Linked DNA regions of Homo sapiens. The protein of the gene in region 1 purifies or fractionates together with the protein of each later gene. This does not show direct contact. Each region holds a gene or a part of one and is shown on either strand. Other genes may lie near its edges.

Region 1 (3,500 bases):
ACCCTGCCCAGACATGGTGACCATGTATTCCCAAGTGTCTCCAGGGCCCTTTAGGTCACAACTGCAATATATGTAGTTCTTCTCTTTCTGGTAGCCAAACCACTAGGCAGATCAGCTTCATTCTGCCTCTGGAAAGTGCAGGCCCAGAGTGGCCAAGATAAGGTTGGAATCACCCATTCTCAGGCTTTATTGGGCTTTCCAATGAGACAGTGGACAAATTAAAGAGAAAAACACAGCCTATTATATATGAGACAGTTAATATAACTTGGGTGCTGATACTAGAAATTTCTGAAAAGGTGAGCCTCATCCCCATTTTCCCCTGAACACCTGGGCTCCCTACTTCCTAAGCTCTCAAATACCCAGAAAAGAGATCACTTCTACCTCCCTGTCAAGGTGTGCCCACTTGTATCCTGGTCGTACTGGCTGAGGATCCCACATCAACTCTTTAGGATGTAAGTACTAATAAGCTTCCCTACCTTCAAGGCAGAGAGGAGGCTACTGAGGGTCAGAGAGACCTGTCCAGCTTGTCCAGGTTCCTGTAAGCCTCCATCCCAAACTGCATTGGCTCTTTCTGTATGAGCTGGTGTGACCTGCCATGGGTTGTCCATGGACTGGAACATTATTATAACAGTGATCAATCTGTATTTCCCTTACGTTTTGCTCTGGTCAATGTGTCTGAAATTGCTAAAAAGCAGAAAGGATCTAAGTTTTGTCATTCTATTTGAATCTGGAGTGGCACGCAATGAATGGTTTTTAGGTTTCTGGAGGAGGAAGAGACCAAGCAGGTCCTGCCAGTCAAGTGAGAGATGATGTGCTGGGTTGGAACCAATTCTTGCTCACCTGAAGGGATAGCCAAATGCAACGATGATGGAGCTCACGTCCTTGGCTTCGTTGTTGCAGCGAACCATTGCTCCTGTCTCCCCGCTGTAGGAGCCACAGGACCCGAAGGCGAAAATAGCAAAGAGCTGAGAGAGAGTGAAGCCTCTTTGAGAGTCAGAAGGCCTCAACTGGCCAAAGTCGAGAACTAACCGTGACTCCCCGCAGGTGCAGACATTAAGTGCGGGAGTGGGGGAGAGTGAGGATCCCCTTTAATCAAGTTCTTCCTAGGTAGAAACCCATGGCTTCCATTTATCTTCCAGCCTCAGGCTGCTGGACCAAATAGCCAAATGAATACAAGGTTGACTGAGTGGTGTCTGCAAGGGAGATGAAGAGGCAGGAAATGGACAGTTGCCAGATCTCTCCATTGGGCATGACTTGGGGACCACAGGTAGCCTCCTTAAGATGACTAACACAAAACCTCTGCAATTCAGGCTTTAGGAAACTTCTAGCTTACAGATAGACTTGAATTTCCTTCCCAAGGGAGAGACACACTCAAAAAGATTCCCCTGCATCAACCTAGATCAGACATGCCTAGAACGCTTTTCATTTCTCCTTTGAACTAGTCATCTAATCTTGTTTCCTAGTTGCTAACTTCCAGTGGCTTCCTGCCTTGGTGGAGGTATAGCTGGAGGGGCCAGCTTCTACCAAGCCACCCCAGATGGGCCATACTACTGTCCCATAGTACTGACAGCCTAATTCCTCTTCCCCAAAAGGCACATGGCCTTCTAGCAATAGTGCTGGCTGGGCCAATGTGACAATCTTGGCTCAAGCCCAGAGAAAAGTACCCTCCACTTGCCTTATCAGTCTCCACTGTTTCCCCACTGGTATTTCCCTTTGTCATCTGTTGATGCTGCCATTTCTCAGTGTTAAGATCCAGAGGTGTCTCAGGTCACTCGAATTGTTTTCTTCTCCACCTTTCCTCACATTTTACTACACCTTCTCTCTCAAGTGAAATAAAATTTCCTCATCCTATGATTTTCAGATTTCTTTCTGGGAAACACACTTTGGTTAGAAAAGGAGGTGAGAGGCCAGGTGCGGTGGCTCACACCTGTAATCCCAGCACTTTGGGAGGCTGAGGCGGGTGGATCATTTGAGGTCAGGAGTTTGAGACCAACCTGGCCAACATGGTGAAACCCCATATCTACTAAAAATACAAAAATCAGCCTGGCGGTAGAGTGTCGCATGCCTGTAATCTCAGCTACTTGGGAGGCTGAGGCAGGAGAATCACTTGAACCCGGGAGGCGGAGGTTGCAGTGAGCCGAGATCGTGCCACTGCACTCCAGCCTGGCAACAGAATGAGACCTTGTCCCTCTCCCGCCCACCGCCAAAAAAAAAAAAAAAAAGAAAAGAAAAGAAAAGAAAAAAGAAAAGGAGGTGAGAAATTGAAATGTCTTATCCTCCACATCATCTGCTCAGATTGGATTTCCTGTGCACTTACCTTTGACTTGTACACAATGTCATGTTCTTATTAAGCAATGAGCTTATTCTCTTAATTGTTCACTCTCTGTATCTTTCTTCGAGACTCAGTGTCTTGGACATTAAGCACTTGGAAGACAGCTGATCTGTATGTCAGCCCTGCATCCAGAGTCTAGAATAGAAGCTATATGCACTTTATTTTGCCAATGCTTGTTAGCATTATGGAGTGAAAGGAGACCTGAACTAGGAGTATGGAAACCTAGGTTCCAGACCTGGTCCTGTCACTAATTAGCCAGGTGAGCTCTGATAAGTCACTCTGCTCTCTGAGTCTGTTTCCTCATCTTTTTTTTTTTTTTTAGATGGAGTCTTGCTCTGTCGCCCAGGCTGGAGTGTAGTGGCGCAATCTTGGCTCACTGCAAGCTGCACCTCCTGCGTTCACACCATTCTCCTGCCTCAGCCTGTTGAGTAGCTGGGACTATAGGCGCCCACCACCATGCCCAGCTAATTTTTTGTATTTTTTTTAGTAGAGACGGGTTTTCACCGTGTTAGCCAGGATGGTCTCGGTCTCCTGACCTTGTGATCCGCCCGCCTCAACCTCCCAAAGTGCTGGGATTATAGGCATGAGCCCAGCCTGTTTCCTCATCTTAAATGGAGGGGTTTGGAGTAGATAATCTAGAGGCCCTTTCCAGCCCTGGAACTCTCTCACTCTCTGAGAGTAACACTGTCAGTGTACTCTTGACTGGGCTTGCCAACAGCTGTGCTTTGCCCCTGCGAGGTGTCCAGTGCCACTGCCCCCGGCTTGCAGCGCCTGGCCTTGCAGATCTCCATGCTGGAGCCATTGGCCTCTCTCCAAATAATGGGCACCTCTCTGTTTTCAGGAGGTTTATTCCAGACAAATGAGAATTGTCTCCATGTTTAAAGATATCTGGGAAAGAAGACAGTAAAACCTCCCTCCAATGCCTAAATACCCTCCTCTCCTGAATTAAATGATGAAGACTGCAGTAGAGCCCTGTCTGCCCGCCTTCTTCACAGAGGTAGAGAAGAGTCACTCGAAGCCTCTGCATCATTACCCTTTACTTACTCAAAGTGGCCTCACCATTGTAATAGTGGAACTTCTCTAACTCTTCCTCATAGGAATTCGCTAATCTTTTGTCAGTTCTGTGGCCATCTGATTCCTCTTAGAAGTTTCTTTATTCCTCTTAGCT
Region 2 (3,500 bases), on another chromosome or scaffold:
TGCCTAAGATGACGATTCACAAGAGGCACGTGTGTCACTTCCCTCTGGAAAGCACCCTGCGTGCCGGCAATGCACGGGCAGCACAGACTGTCAGATAGATGAGTCCCTGCCTTTGCAGAACTCACTTTCTGGTAGGTAAAAACAAAACAAAACAAGTAACTTGCTGAAGATGCTGCCACCAGGACACAGTGCTGCCAGGACACAATGGAGGCACGGAGGCAGGGGTTCAACTCCACACTGGGGAGAGGCGGGAAGAGCCTCTTGTGGAATAAAAGAGTTTTAGTGCTTTCAGCTGCTTTAATATGTGAAACAAGGATGGTCATGATGCAGGGAGGGAAATTTTTTCTCCAAGATGATTGACAAGTGGGGATTAGTCACAGGACAGAGGTAAGGAGGTCTGGGGATTCTCAGGCAAGGGAAGCAGCTCTCAGAGTAATAAAAAAGAAAGCGGAGCTTGGGCAAAGCATCCTAAATACGTACTTTTGTAGGAAAAAAAAAAACTTCTTTAACTGAGCTTGAATGTTATTTTAGATTCATCCTGACCTTGAGCAAGTCACCTGCAAGTGTCCAACAACTGCACAAAAACCGGTCTCCCTTGCAGAGTCGACTGTGGTCAGTCCTTAATTTCTCCCAGTAATGAAGACATCAGGGCACATCACATTGTAGGAAGGTGGATCATTATTCTGATTTGAAACTGTTTCTCTTCCTACTTGGTCTAAACATACCTAGTGCTAAGGACATCCACTCTTTTTTTTTCTTTTTATAACATTTATCCATCTATGCTGCAGAAAAACTGGGAAGCACAAAGAAAAAAATTAAAATCACCCATCATCTTGCCTCCAGAGAGCCAGACATACACACACACGTATGTGTATGTAATGTTGGATAGAAACTGTGATGGTTATCCTATGCATTGTTTTAGAAAATAAAAAGGAGGTGATACATGGTACAGAGGCAGAGGTGCCTAGTGGTTACCACTCACTCTGTGAACTTGGGAAAACACGCATGTAGTTTTTGAGGATGAAATCTATGAACATATGTGTCTGGCACATCGTTTATGCTCAGTAACTATTACCCAGCATTTTTATTAAACACTTTCCAGTGTCTCTATGTTAGTCTGTTTTGTACTGCTATGAAGAAATACCTGAGACTGGATCATTTACAAAGAAAACAGGGGTTACTTTGGCTCTCAGTTCTGCAGCCTGTACAAGCACGGCACCATCATCTGCTCGGCCTCTGGTGAGGCCTCGGGAAGCTTTTACGCACAGTGGAAGGCCCGGGGGAGCCCACACATCTCATGGCGAGAGAGGAGGTGGTCCCAGGCTCTTTAAACAACCAACTCTGCCTGAACTAACAAAGTGAGAAGTCACTCACTACTGTGAGGACGACACAAAGCCATTCATAAGGGATCTGCCCCCATGACCTAAACATTCCTGCTAGGCCCACCTCCAACCCTGGAGGCCACATTTCAACATGAGGTTTGGAGGGAACAGGTGCAAACCATGTCAGTCACTAAGTATTCTTCCTCAACGGGACTTTGACATGGCTACATGCTGTTACATTGTATAGGCATTCCCCAATTTACTGAAATGTCTTCTACTGGGGCCATTTAGATTATTAAAAGTCCACCTTAAACAGGCATGGGAATGCACGTTAGATGTGCAGACAACAGAATGGCTACCTCAAAGCCAACCCGAAACTTCTGGATTCCTCGCCAAGGCTGCAGCAATAAAAACATGGTTTTGTTGATTCCAGAAAAGTCTGCTTAAGGTTGGACACTTCCACTCACCTACTGAGTAGAGAGAAGCCACATGGTGAGATATAAAATGACTCAGCCAGGACCCACAACTATGTAAACTCACAGACTGCTGTTACTCGCGTAGGGACCGCTGAACTCAGGAGCTGCCGTAACTTTTGATTCCTGTTAAGGATATGTCAGTGGAGACAAATCGCCCAGAGTCAATCATTATTTGCCAGGGACAGCCGATGTTCAAAGGACGACTTCGAGTGAGGTTAAAAACATGGACTTGGCCCTTTATAAAGAATTGCAGACTTAGACAAGTTTTTAGATACAGAATTCTGATCTTTACAGTGCTAAAATGGAGAAAATACACATTCAATTTCATGGGGTAATTCCACAGTCTTAATCTGAAACAGAAGTACAACAGGGCAACTCCTCACCTTAATTTTTGACCAAGAACAGCAACAAGGGATAGGTATGTATGAATCTACCTATCGACCTCTGGTTTTTACCTTGCCTAAACCATTTGTGGGGCAATTTTCTAACAAAAAAAAAAAAGAGAGAGAGAGAAACATCTTGGATTATATTGGTTTCACTGATAACTCATGTAAAATTTTAAAGATTTAAAAAACTAAAAAAAAAAAAAACATAGCTTAGAATAAACTAACTGATACTAAAATATTTTCACTCCATCCTAAAGGTCTATCTTAATAATTGGTAGGAAAATCAAATCCTAAAAATTGATATTTTGGAAAAAATAACTCATCTTGATAAGACAGTAAAAGATGAGGGTGGCTTTTTGTAATATCTAATATTTTCCTTGAAATATATGTATTACGGAGAGAGAGAGAGAGACACTTGGCCAAGTAAACTGAATCTAAATCATGTTTTGAAACTTGTCAATCTTCTCACTCTTGTTAGTAAATACATGCAGCAATTTTAATAAGCACACATCACTTTTTTTTTTTTTGAGACGGAGTCTCGCTGTGTCACCCAGGCTGGAGTGCAGTGACGCAATTTCAGCTCACTGCAACCTCCGCCTCCCAGGTTCAAGCAATTCTCCTGTCTCAGCCTCTGGAGTAGCTGGGACTACAGGCTCCTGCCACCACACCCGGCTAATTTTTGTATTTTTAGTAGAGACGGGATTTCACCAGATTGGTCAGGCTGGTCTTGAACTCCTGACCTCAGGTAATCCACCTGCCTCGGCCTCACAAAGTGTTGGGATTACAGGCGTGAGCCACACATTTGGAGACTAAAGAAAATGCTCTTCTTTGCCTGTCAGCATTCCGAAGAGACAAAGAAAAATTGGGAATGCTGGTGTTTATGCCATCGTGGTTATGCCCAGAGATAAACGTGTGGCAGCGGTGTTATGTCCTAACCTTTGGGCAGGTTATAGCACTTGGGGGTGGCCTGAAGAAAAGGCAAGGCAGAAAGTAGTAGAATAACAGGTAAGTAAACTTATCTGATGATTATCTAAAAGATTTAAGAAAAAGACCAAAATGTGTGGTTACACATAGGTAAGATTAGAGGTAACAAAAGAAGTGAAATTCTCCCAAAGAGCCTGAGCCAAATGGAAGCTGTGGATCCACTTCGGCGAAGTCAGTAGCAGAAATCTGTCCTCCATAACGCACTCCTTGCTAAGCCTCTACTCATGCGACCATGTGTGGGAAGTGACCAGCTGTAGTGCCCAGAGAGAGGGAGAAAGGTGGGGAGAGGATGTCGCGGGTCAGTAAGGAGGACCCAGAAGTGGGGATGGGCA

The links. Proteins that work in one complex are often made in the same cells at the same time.
Region 2: the proteins of SYPL2 (region 1) and CYB5A purify together in Homo sapiens (affinity purification with mass spectrometry; one large-scale study listed by BioGRID and IntAct). This does not show direct contact.

What each region holds. Positions count from the first base shown.
Region 1 is NC_000001.11:109,473,046-109,476,545, reverse strand, and holds part of SYPL2 (synaptophysin-like protein 2), read right to left. Parts: intron 966-3,500; coding exon 841-965; intron 1-840.
Region 2 is NC_000018.10:74,264,464-74,267,963, forward strand, and holds part of CYB5A (cytochrome b5), read right to left. Parts: intron 1-3,500.